Regions from separate parts of the Homo sapiens genome. Here region 2 is linked to region 1. Evidence: fine-mapped expression QTL. A gene starts in region 1. The other region holds a variant in brackets. All regions are shown on one strand. Distances are from middle to middle.

Region 1 (5,380 bases):
CGGCTCACCGCAACCTCCGCCTCCTGGGTTCAAGTAATTCTGCTGCCTCAGCCTCCCGAGTAGCTGGGATTACAGGCATGCGCCACCATGCCCGGGTAATTTTTGTATTTTTAGTAGAGACGGGGTTTCACCATGTTGGTCAGGCTGGGCTTGAACTCCTGACCCTCATGATCCGCCCACCTCAGCCTCCCAAAGTGCTGGGATTACAGGCATGAGCCACCACGCTCTTTTTCACACTGTTTCAAGGTTGACATAATACTTAACTGTAATTACAATAATAAGCCCAACTGGAATAACCAGATTTGGGAACAAACAACTGACACTTGGCAAGACTTCTGGGTGAAAGCCAAAGGGGACAGAGGTACATCCCAGAGGTGGCCAGGACCTGTATCCTGGGATATCAGTCAGGACATACTGCAGCCAACAGGGCAAGCAGGATGGGTAGACAAAAGGTGGTTAGTAGAGCTGCTACTACTGTAATCCTGGGGGAGACGTGGACCAGTAACATCAGGATGATCAGAGCAATGCAGCCAGAATTCAGACAATGTCAGGAGTGTGAGTCCTCACACCATCATGAGCAAGGGCAAACCACTAGCTTAAAAATGTTCAGCTGGCTGGGTGCAGTGGCTCACGCCTGTAATCCCAGCACTTTGGGAGGCCAAGGCGGGCAGATCACCTGAGGTCAGGAGTTCAAGACCAGCTAGGCCAATATGGTGAAATGAAACTCCATCTCTACTAAAATACAAAAATTAGCCGGACATGATAGGGGGTGCCTGTAATCCCACCTACTCGGGAGGCTGAGACAGGAGAATCGATTGAACCCGGAAGACAGTGGTTGCAGTGAGGAACCACTGCGTTCCAGCCTGGGTGGCTGAGCAAGACCCTGTCTCAAAAAAAAAAGGAAACAAAAAAACAAATGCTCTCTAGGTTAGCCTTCACCAAGTGTTTTAACGAACTACGCTTTTAATATGACATTCTCGTGTCTTCTCTGAAAAAAAAAAAAAAGTTCCATTTTGAAGGTAACAGACACCAATTATATACTCCAAAAGATTGTCTTGTTCTGAAGGAGGAAAGTTTAACATTTGGAGTACGGTATATATTAACACTGGAGTTATTTCCAAGGCACTTGGAAGTGCGTCAATAGCCTTCAGCCCAGCAACAGGGACTGGTTTAACCCACTATGAGGAAACAGGCATTACCGAGTACCAAATAATTCTAGTTGTCTATTTGGGCCAGTGGCTACAGGGACACACAAGTTAGGTATTAGCCTACTGTAAAATAATATAACCTGGATAATAAACCAAGTTGGATTACTTGTCGACATAATTTTTCTTTCAAATTTTAGTGACACTTTGGACTTCATTGTGTCTTCCTTCCATACTGTCCCTGTACAGTGATAGGAGCTAAACTGCCACTGCCCTGCACCTAAGTAACACAGAGCAAGATTTTCCACTACTAGAAACAAGTAACTGAAAAGCCACGTAAACATCCCAGGAAAGAAAAAATACAGCAATAAAATAACGTGCAAATTTCCCCACCACCCCACCAACTGTAAAATAACGTGACTGAACAATTTGTGATGAATAAGTTTTAAAACAAAAAACCTCATAAATCCAACCACTGTATATTTTGTGTTCTTCCTACTTTTTTCTTTGTAATTTTACGTAGTTGTAATTATAGTAAATCCTTTTGAAGCTTATAACAAAAACTTTTTCCAATTTTTAAATCATACACTTTCAAATCAGAAAATTAGATACTTAAAACTTACAGCCTAGTGGTACAAATTCTGCTTGAGCTGTCCTAGAAAATCAAACTGGCAATTTGTTTTCATGCTAACTACAGGAATTACTATCTTCATAAGGCAGAGATTCTCTATTTCAAACTGATACCTGATCAAATAGTGGTGAAGCCCCAGTATCCTATCTGTTATTCTCCCTAGGAATAACCAGGCAGTGGAATGATGGAAACGGCAGAAAATATCTCTAGAGCAAAACATGCAACTGTTTTTATTGTCCAAGTCGATTGGGGCTTTCAAAGGCAAATGTTTTCAGTTATTTAAGGTATTGCAGTGGGAGTCGTGCTCAACACAATTAAGACAGGATTACACTGCAACTTATGAGTTTCTCAAGGACATCATTTATTACGAAATATAACAATCATTTCTCCCAAAGCCTACTATCGACAATCGCACCCCCAACTCTGCTTTGCTAAGGTAATAAACTAAATGGCAACTCAGCAGGCATCCCGGGCTTTTGAGACCAATTGTGGGAAACGTGCTGCCTTCCACCAGCTCAAGTAATAATGCCACCTTACTTATAAAGAGGCATACTGTTTTACATCTTCCATGCACATGATCTTTTCAGTGACTTAGTTAAGTGGCAATGGCAGGTATTTTTCCATTTTACAAAAGAGAAAACAGAACGCCAGCCTCTGGTTTCCCTGCTCAGAAGAACTAAGCCCAGAGCACCTTGAGACTTAAAGGAGTCCTGTGCTCTTCTCAGTACATTTATCAATGACAAGTCTTCCTTTGGTCCAGCCCCCCAAAATAACAGTCAGTAGGTACAGAGCCGGCACAGCAAAGGAAAGCCCCCCCACCGTAGTACCACAAAGCTTCCAGAAAGAGCAACAGTTGCTGCTGTGCAGCATCATCATGAAAGGCATCCGGCCACATCCTGCTGAAGCACCCCTAACACGACTTCAAGTGACAAGGTGGCCAAATCCACAACGCGGTCCTCCAACAAAGCACAGCTTTCCCTGAATACTTTCATTTCTTTACATAAGCACTGGAGAGGGGACACATGCACCACGCTAGTAATGCAACACCATCAGGAGACCTGGAACAGAGGAAGTGAAAACATTCCTGCAGAAAGGAGGCGCCTCCTCCCCGCTCCCCGCTTCCCAAGTGGCATCAGAACAGGGTCCAGTGGCACTCCTTTGGGGACCTACGGCTCCCCGGCCCTCACCTGGTGGGAAGCGCGACGCTCCGGAGCGGAAGGCAGAGGCCGAGCGCATCTTCCTCCTCTTCCTCCTCCCACGCCGCAGCCCGGCTCTGCGGCAGCCCCCGCCCCCGCCCAGCTCCCTCCTCCCCCCGCCGCCCCGCCGCGCCTGGAGCCTCCCGCCCGACTTTTGACGTCACGGAGGAGGAGGGGAAGGTTCCACCCGAGCCCGTCCCTTTGTGACGTCACAATGACAACAGAGTGCGGCCGGGAGCGTCGGGGAACCGAGCGCCGCGGGGGGCGGAGGGAGGGAAGAAGGGCTGGGGCGCCGGCGCGCGGCGGGGGAAGAACCGGGGGGCGGAGAGGGGGCGCGCTGACGTCTCGCCGGCTTAACCTGTTGCTCTCGAGACTGCGTCGGAGCCCGCAGGCAGGGCCGCGGGAAGCCGGCCGGGCCGCCGCCGCCATGCTCGGCCGTGTGCGCGGTGGGGGGCGCCCGCTGCAGCTGTGCGCCGCGCGCCCCCTCCCCGGCACGCCCACGCCCCCGCCCCCGCTCCCACCCCCTCCCCGCGCGCTCTCCCCTCCCCGCGCCCCGCAGGCCGCGCCACCCCCGCGCCCCACCCGCCCTCCTGCCCGCCTGCAAGCCGGCCCGGGTAGACCGGTGCCCGCCTCGCGCGCCCGCCTAGAGCCCGGAGTATGCCCCCTATAGGCCGCGCGCGCGCGCCCGCCCGCCCAGCCCCGGCCCAGCCTGCCGCGACCCCCGCGGGCCGTCCCTTTCGCAGCCGGCTCGAGGACGTCGGGAACACCGGCTCTGCTCCCGGTGCATTAACTCGTGCCGTGCCTCCCGCAGCCGCCGCCAGCCACGGGCTTGCAGCCGGACGCCCGGACTCGGAGACACGATCCGCTGAACGCCCGCAATAAGAAAGAAAACCCACCCCACGCTGCTCTCCACCTCAACGAGGTCCGGAATGGGAGGCGGGGTGCGGTTCTCGTCCAAGTTCTACCCCATTTGCTTTGTGGCTGCATCCGAAACGGACGTGCCCCGGGAAGGCGTCCACGCTCCAAGACAAGGTTGCCTCAGTGCAGTTTCTACAGCCCGAGTTTAAACTAGTCCTTTGCATTCTACCCAGCCCTCTGCAATGCGGATGTATTTTAATTCTTAAATTCTTTATGGAACAGCTTTCTAAGTTGGGCTTGATTATTTAACCTTGCATTTCTTTCATAGTTGAAGTTGACGTGTCTAGATAAGGATCAGCTCTCTTGAAGAGGCATTCAGCTTTTCCATTAAATATATTTTTTTACAAAACCAGTGCCCCGAAGGTCATCTCTCATTACACACACCACAATGATCAAAAAGGGAAAATATTAACACCAATTTGTCTACCCAACTTAAATAAACTTTCCTCTTACGTTGCATTATTCCTAAGGTATGTTCATTTGGCCTTTTTTGAAAAAAAAAAAGAGTTATTTAATTTAAAGCATGCAGCTAATCACAGATCACTCGAGTGCATATTTGGTTAATCCCTCGGTCCCCCTTTCCTCCCTCCCCTCAAACTTAAAAAAAAAAAAAAGCCACCACACACAAAACAAAAACACTCCCCATGCCAATCAAAACGTAGCTGTACTATGCACAAAACAAATTTAACTATTCCAAGCCATTTAAATCTAGGAATAATCACCCAATTTCAGAAGCCCAGTTAACAGGGAGAAATTATTTGTAGTTACTTACATATGCATTCACGTACACACTTAAAAACATTAGCCATAGTGTGTGTCCTTTTCCCCTACAACTGGAAACCATGAATTTTTTAAACAAAACCAGCCTCATTATTAAAGTCAATCCCAACAAATGCATTCGCTGTAACATGATTCCCAACTGGTTTATGTTGCAAACCAGATAAGCCAAAACGACCACAGACATTAAATTTGATGTGCCAGTGCAAAGAGAAGATCGCCATAATCGGACCCTCGATCGCAACTTAAAGGGCTTCCAACACACATGCGTTACACGATTTTTCCAAATAACATTAATAATAATAACACAGGCTCATTTGCATGCAAAGTGCAATACGGGGCCAAATCCGCTTGAGAATGCAGTTTAGTTACATTACCGCAGCCACCCCCCACCTCAAGCTCCACCAAAATCCCTTGCCTTTCATCTAAAAGTAGATTATGGTTGTGTCATTCGAGGTCAATTTATTCACTTGAGGTATCTCTACACCAGTCTGTTTTTTCAACCAAACTAGGCAGACACCACTTTGCTTGAAAAGCCCTCTTTCAGAAAAAAAAGAAACAGCCTTATCGGACGCTGTGTTTAAAACCCTTCAGAGGCAGAATTATCTATAAACTTGACATTCACAGCCATTGCTTAAAACTGCAAGTCAAAGGATGTGTTGTTAGGAGCACTTACGTATTTCTTCTGAATGATATTCCTCTTGGGTCTTTCC
Region 2 (5,380 bases), 83 kb after region 1:
CTTCGTCCTGCCGAGCTAGAAAAGACCCAGTGACTCTTGTTTTTTTGTTTTGTTTTGTTTTGCTTTCTCTTTGAGATGGAGTTTCATTATTGTTGCCCAGGCTGGAGTGCAGTGGTGCAATCTCGGCTCACAGCAACCTCCGCCTCCCGGGCTCAAGCATTTCTCCTGCCTCAGCCTCCCAAGTAGCTGGAATTACAGGCATCTGCCATTACGCCTGGCTAATTTTTGTATTTTTAATAGAGATGAGGTTTCCCCATGTTGCCCAGGCTGGTCTCAAACTCCTGAGCTCAAGGGATTTGCCTGCCTTGGCCTCCCAAAGTGCTGGGATTACAGGCGTGAGCCACTGTGCCCAGCCTCAAAGTGGATCTTAAAGCAGAGGCTGATACACGTTTTTAACTTGCACATTTTGGGTTTTTTTTTTTTGAGACAGAGTCTCACTCTATTGCCCAGACTGGAGTGCAATGGCGTGATCTCGGCTCACTGCAGCCTCTGCCTCCCAGGTTCAAGTGAGTCTCCTGCCTCAGCCTCCCAAGTAGCTGGGATTACAGGCATGAACCACTACACCCAGCTAATTTTTGTATATATATATTTTTTAATAGAGATGGGGTTTCACCATGTTGGTCGGGCTGGTCTTGAACTCCTGACTTTGTGATCCGCCTGCCTCGGCCTCCCAAAGTGCTGGTATTACAGGCGTGAGCCACCGCACCTGGCCACATGTTGGTTTTTTAATATACCATTTACCCTGTGAAAAATGGTCACTTATCTTGAAGATGTTGTATTCACTTAAGACTCCCACTAGAGTGGCCACGGGAATATTGTTCATGAATTTGTGGCAGAATGAGACTCATCAATAGCTTGCCTAATAAATTAAAAGGATACCCAATATCTGCCTTAAACCCACAAAGGAATATAAATTTGCAGCAAGAGATCAAGACTCTAATGAAGGCAGCAGGAGACGGCTTTAAAGACAATTCCCTGTTGCAACTTGATGATGAAAATCAGTCTTAACTGTGCATTTAATTTCTTTTGTGGGTTCAAAGCAGATCCCTAAAGTTTTATTCGAGGAAGGTTAATCATGATAGTCTTTGGAGCCTATAATGCTTCTAATATTGGGTAGAGTGAGTAAAAGATATTTGTGTGAATAATATTTTGCCTTTTTAAAGTTAGGTGTTACGTAGAAAAAAAGAACCTGCAAAAATACTATCTTTGTAGACATCTTTGAAGAAATAAATGTGGGAAAAGATGTAGGATTCATTAATACACAGCATTTATTTGTAAAAAATGCCTTCCTAACTTTCCACAAATCCCATATTTCCTAAGCAAAATTCTATATGTTAAATATGGAAAGGAACCTTTTTAAATAAAAAGGAAATAAGGGTGGCCAGGCACGGTGGCTCATGCCTGTAATCCCAGCACTTTGGGAGGCTGAGGCGGGCAGATCACATCAGGTCAGGAGTTCAAGACCAGACTGGCCAACCTGGCGAAACCCTGTCTCTACAAAAATACAAAAATTAGCTGGCATGGTGGTGTGTGCTAGTAATCCCAGCTACTTGGGAGGCTGAGGTGGGAGAATTGCTTGAGCCCGGGAGGCAGCGGAGGTTGCAGTGAGCTGAGATTGCGCCATTGCACGCCAGCCTGGGTGACAGAGTGAGACTCCATCTCAAAAAAAAAAAAAAGGAAATAAGGAAAGGAAAGAAGAGCAACACCAAAACTTTTTCCTTGATGAGGTGGTAGAGACCTATTTAATGCAGAACAACATTTTAGAAGTCCATGCCAGGTGCATAAAATTTGTGCACCCTTCCTTTCCTTTTTCTCATTGATTTCCCTTTTGGTCCTTCTCGGTGCCTTTCAGGAGTGGCTTAAATTGTCAAATACACCATAATTCATGAGTGTTTATCTTTGATTCCACATCCCCCTCACCCCAATCCCACATCTTCAATTCTTTTTCTTAGAAGCAGAGTCTTGCTCTGTTGCCCAGGCTGGAGTGCAGTGGCATGATCAGGGCTCACTGCAGCCTTGACTTTCCAGGCTTCTGTGATCCTCTCAGCTCAGCTTCCCAAATAGCTGGGACCACAGGCGCACACCACCATGTCTCGCTAATTTTTATGCATTTTCTTTTTTTGTAGAGATGAGGTCTTGCTATGTTGCCCGGGCTTCATCTTCTACTCTTGCTTCCTCTTTATTTCTCTCTAGCTCTAAGCCAGAAGTCGTTCTACTTCACTGTGCATAAGGATCAAATGAGAATTTGAGTTAGAAATTCAGTGATTTCTGGGCCGGGTGTGGTGGCTTATGCCTGTAATCCCATCATTTTGGGAGGTCGGTTTGGGCGGATCACTTGAGGTCAGGAGTTTAAGATCAGCCTGGCCAACATGGTGAAACCCTGCCTCTACTAAAATACAAAAATTAGCTGGGCATGGTGGTGCACTCCTGTAATCCAAGCTATTCGGGAGGCTGAGGCTAGAGAATTGCCTGAATCCAGGAGGCGGAAGTTGCAGTGAGCCAAGATCGTGCCACTGCACTCCAGTCTGGGTGACAGAGTGAAACTCCGTCTCACACACAC[A/T]CAAAAAAATAAAAATAAAAATAAAAAAAATTAAAAAAAAAAAAAAAGACGAAATTCAGTGATTTCTGTGTTGACATCCAGGAATCGTGAGTTTTGCCAAACATCCTAAGTATTGCTGTTGTAGGTGTTGAGATATACTATTAGGTTATGGAGTAAGACTTAAACTATCACCAGGGTATTTTCATTTTATTAAGAGAACAATGATTCTTTAATTGTAGAATTACAGGCATCAGTAATCCTTGTGGCTAGAGGGTTTCTTCCGAGGAGGAGCTTAGACTCCTGACAGATCCTATTGTAAGGCCCCAGTTCTCCCTTCCCTTCTGGCTCCCTCTTTACCCCTACTAATTAACGGAAGCACTGGGGGTGCGATAGGGGGTGGGGCCGCTGAGGTCTAAGGGTTTCCAATCAGTCTGTGGTTTAGAATTCAAGGGCTCGGAGAGTCAATGTTCATCATTCTTTGGTAGATGACTTTTCATCTTTGTTAGGCTTTGAAATTTTAACATAAACTGAAAAGTAATCAAAATCTGTATTCAGCACTTGCCTTACATACAAGAAGTTCCTTCTGTAACCTGAGTTAAAGAGAATTGACTTGGTTTTCAAAAATGGCTCCATCCGTCAACATAGCTGAAATTCTACCATTACAAATGATGGCCTTTGGACCCTGGAAAATTGTTAGGCCTCGAAAGTCTAACAATTGATAATGCATACACTTCTAGGTCAATATCACCTTAAACTGGAGCCAGTGAACATTTTGGTGGTAGTCTAGGATGATTGGAATTGGGACCATAAAAAGTGGGAAAGAATAGGAGAAAGAGAATTCTTATTGACTCTGAACACATAAAGAAATAAAATATTTAAATTAAAATTGGTTCATACCTGTAATCTCAGCACTTTGGGAGGCCGACGTGGGTGGATCACTTGAGGTTAGGAGTTCCAGACCAGCCTGGCCAACATGGTGAAACCCTGTCTCTACTAAAAATACAAAAATTAGCCGGGCATGGTGGCACATGCCTGTAATCCCAGCTACTCAGGAGGCTGAGGCAGGAGAATCACTTGAACCCAGGAAGCAGAGGTTGCGGTGAGCAGAGATCATGCCACTGCACTCCAGCCTGGGGAACAGAGTAAGACTCTGTCTCAAAAAAAAAAAAATTAATTAATTAAAACAAAAAATAAAAATAAAAAAGAAAGAGTGGCTCTTTGGATGAATCTCATACAAACTCTGAGAAACTCCTGACTAGGCACAGTGGCTCATGCCTGTAATTCCAGCACTTTGGGAGGCCCAGGTAGGTGGATCACCTGAGCTCAGGAGTTCAAGACCAGCCTGGCCAACATGGTGAAACTCCGTCTCTACCAAAATTACAAAAATTAGCCAGGCGTGGGCAAGCGCCTATGGTCCTAGCTACTTCGGGGGCTGAGGCTGGAAGATCCCCTGAGCTAGGGAAGCAGAGGTTGCAGTGAGCCAAGATTGTGCTGTTGTACTCCAGCTTGGGCGGAAGAGTGAAACTGTCTCAAAAAAAAAATGCATGTTTATTCTACATGTTTTCTTTTTTTCAAGCAAGAGATCAGGTAATCTTTTCTGATATCAATATACAATAAGAGAACAGCAGATATATTTAGTATGATGTAATACATATTGAAATCAATTACAAATGTCAGTTTTATTTATTTATTTATTTATTTATTTATTTATTTTTATTTTTTATTTTATTTTATTTTTTTTTTTGAGACGGAGTTTTGCTCTTGTTACCCAGGCTGGAGTGCAATGGCGCCATCTCAGCTCACCGCAACCTCCGCCTTCCAGGTTCAAGCTATTCTCCTGCCTCAGCCTCCTGAGTAGCTGGGATTATAGGCATGTACCACCACGCCCAGCTAATTTTGTATTTTTAGTAGAGACAGGGGTTTCTTCATGTTGGTCAGGCTGGTCTCAAACTCCTGACCTCAGGTGATCCCCCCGCCTCGGCCTCCCAATGTGCTGGGGTTACAGGCCTGAGCCACCGCACCCGGCTACAACTGTCAGTTTTAAATATTAATGTCTATTGTACCAAATTTGGGATCTCAGGAGAAAGTATTCAACATAATTTAAAATGCCGAGGCTGGGCTTGGTGGCTCACGTATGCAATCCCATCATTTTGGGAGGCCAAGGTGGGCGGATCGCTTGAGTTCAGGAGTGCAAGACCAGCCTGGGCAACATGGTGAAACCCTGTCTTTACAAAAAATACAAAAATTAGCTGGGCATGGTGGCACGCGTGCCTGTGGTCCTAGCTACTTGGGAGGCTACGGCAGGAGAATCACTTGAGCCAGGGAGGCAGAAGTTGCCGTAAGCCAAGATGGCGCCACTGCACTCCAGCCTGGGTGGCAGGAGTGAAAGAAACCCTGTCTTAAAAACAAAACGAAACAAAAATATGAAATTATTATAGAAAAGGATATTTTCAGGATAGAAGTGTGTATTTGAGTCATGCAAGTTGTACTCAATTATGCTGAAGCTGTAAAAGACTCTGAAAATGATCTCCTATTGGACATTTATAGAAATAACTTCTTTGAGGAGTCACAGATAGCCTTTATTTTTCTCTCTCTATTCTCTCTTTCTCTCTTTCCTAGGTCAGTAAATTTTCTCTTTTTTTTTTCTTTTTTTGAAACGGAGTCTCGCTCAGTTGCCCAGGCTGGAGTGCAGTGGCACGATCTCGGCTCACTGCAAGCTCCACCTCCTGGGTTCACGCCATTCTCCTGCCTCAGCCTCCCAAGTAGCTGGGATTACAGGTGCCCGCCACCACGTCCGGCTAATTTTTTGTACTTTTAGTAGAGACGGGGTTTCACCGTGTT

What was found.
Region 2: its variant is fine-mapped to the expression of JARID2-AS1 in whole blood (INTERVAL, PIP 0.94).

The regions. Positions count from the first base shown.
Region 1 is chr6:15,246,548-15,251,927 of GRCh38, reverse strand. JARID2-AS1 (JARID2 antisense RNA 1) reads left to right here and starts at 3,232. Exons shown (of 2, transcript NR_120502.1): 1 at 3,232-3,418; 2 at 3,784-4,113. It overlaps JARID2 (jumonji and AT-rich interaction domain containing 2), which reads right to left. Exons shown (of 18, transcript NM_004973.4): 1 at 5,344-5,380. RefSeq lists enhancers at 1-288, 1,977-2,818 and silencers at 3,007-3,486, 3,607-3,666.
Region 2 is chr6:15,163,837-15,169,216 of GRCh38, reverse strand. All of the region lies in intron 1 of LOC105374946 (a long non-coding RNA gene), which reads left to right. Among named protein-coding and RNA genes, the nearest start is that of JARID2-DT, 79 kb to the left of the region's middle. The variant A/T (reference allele first, on the strand shown) is at 2,561.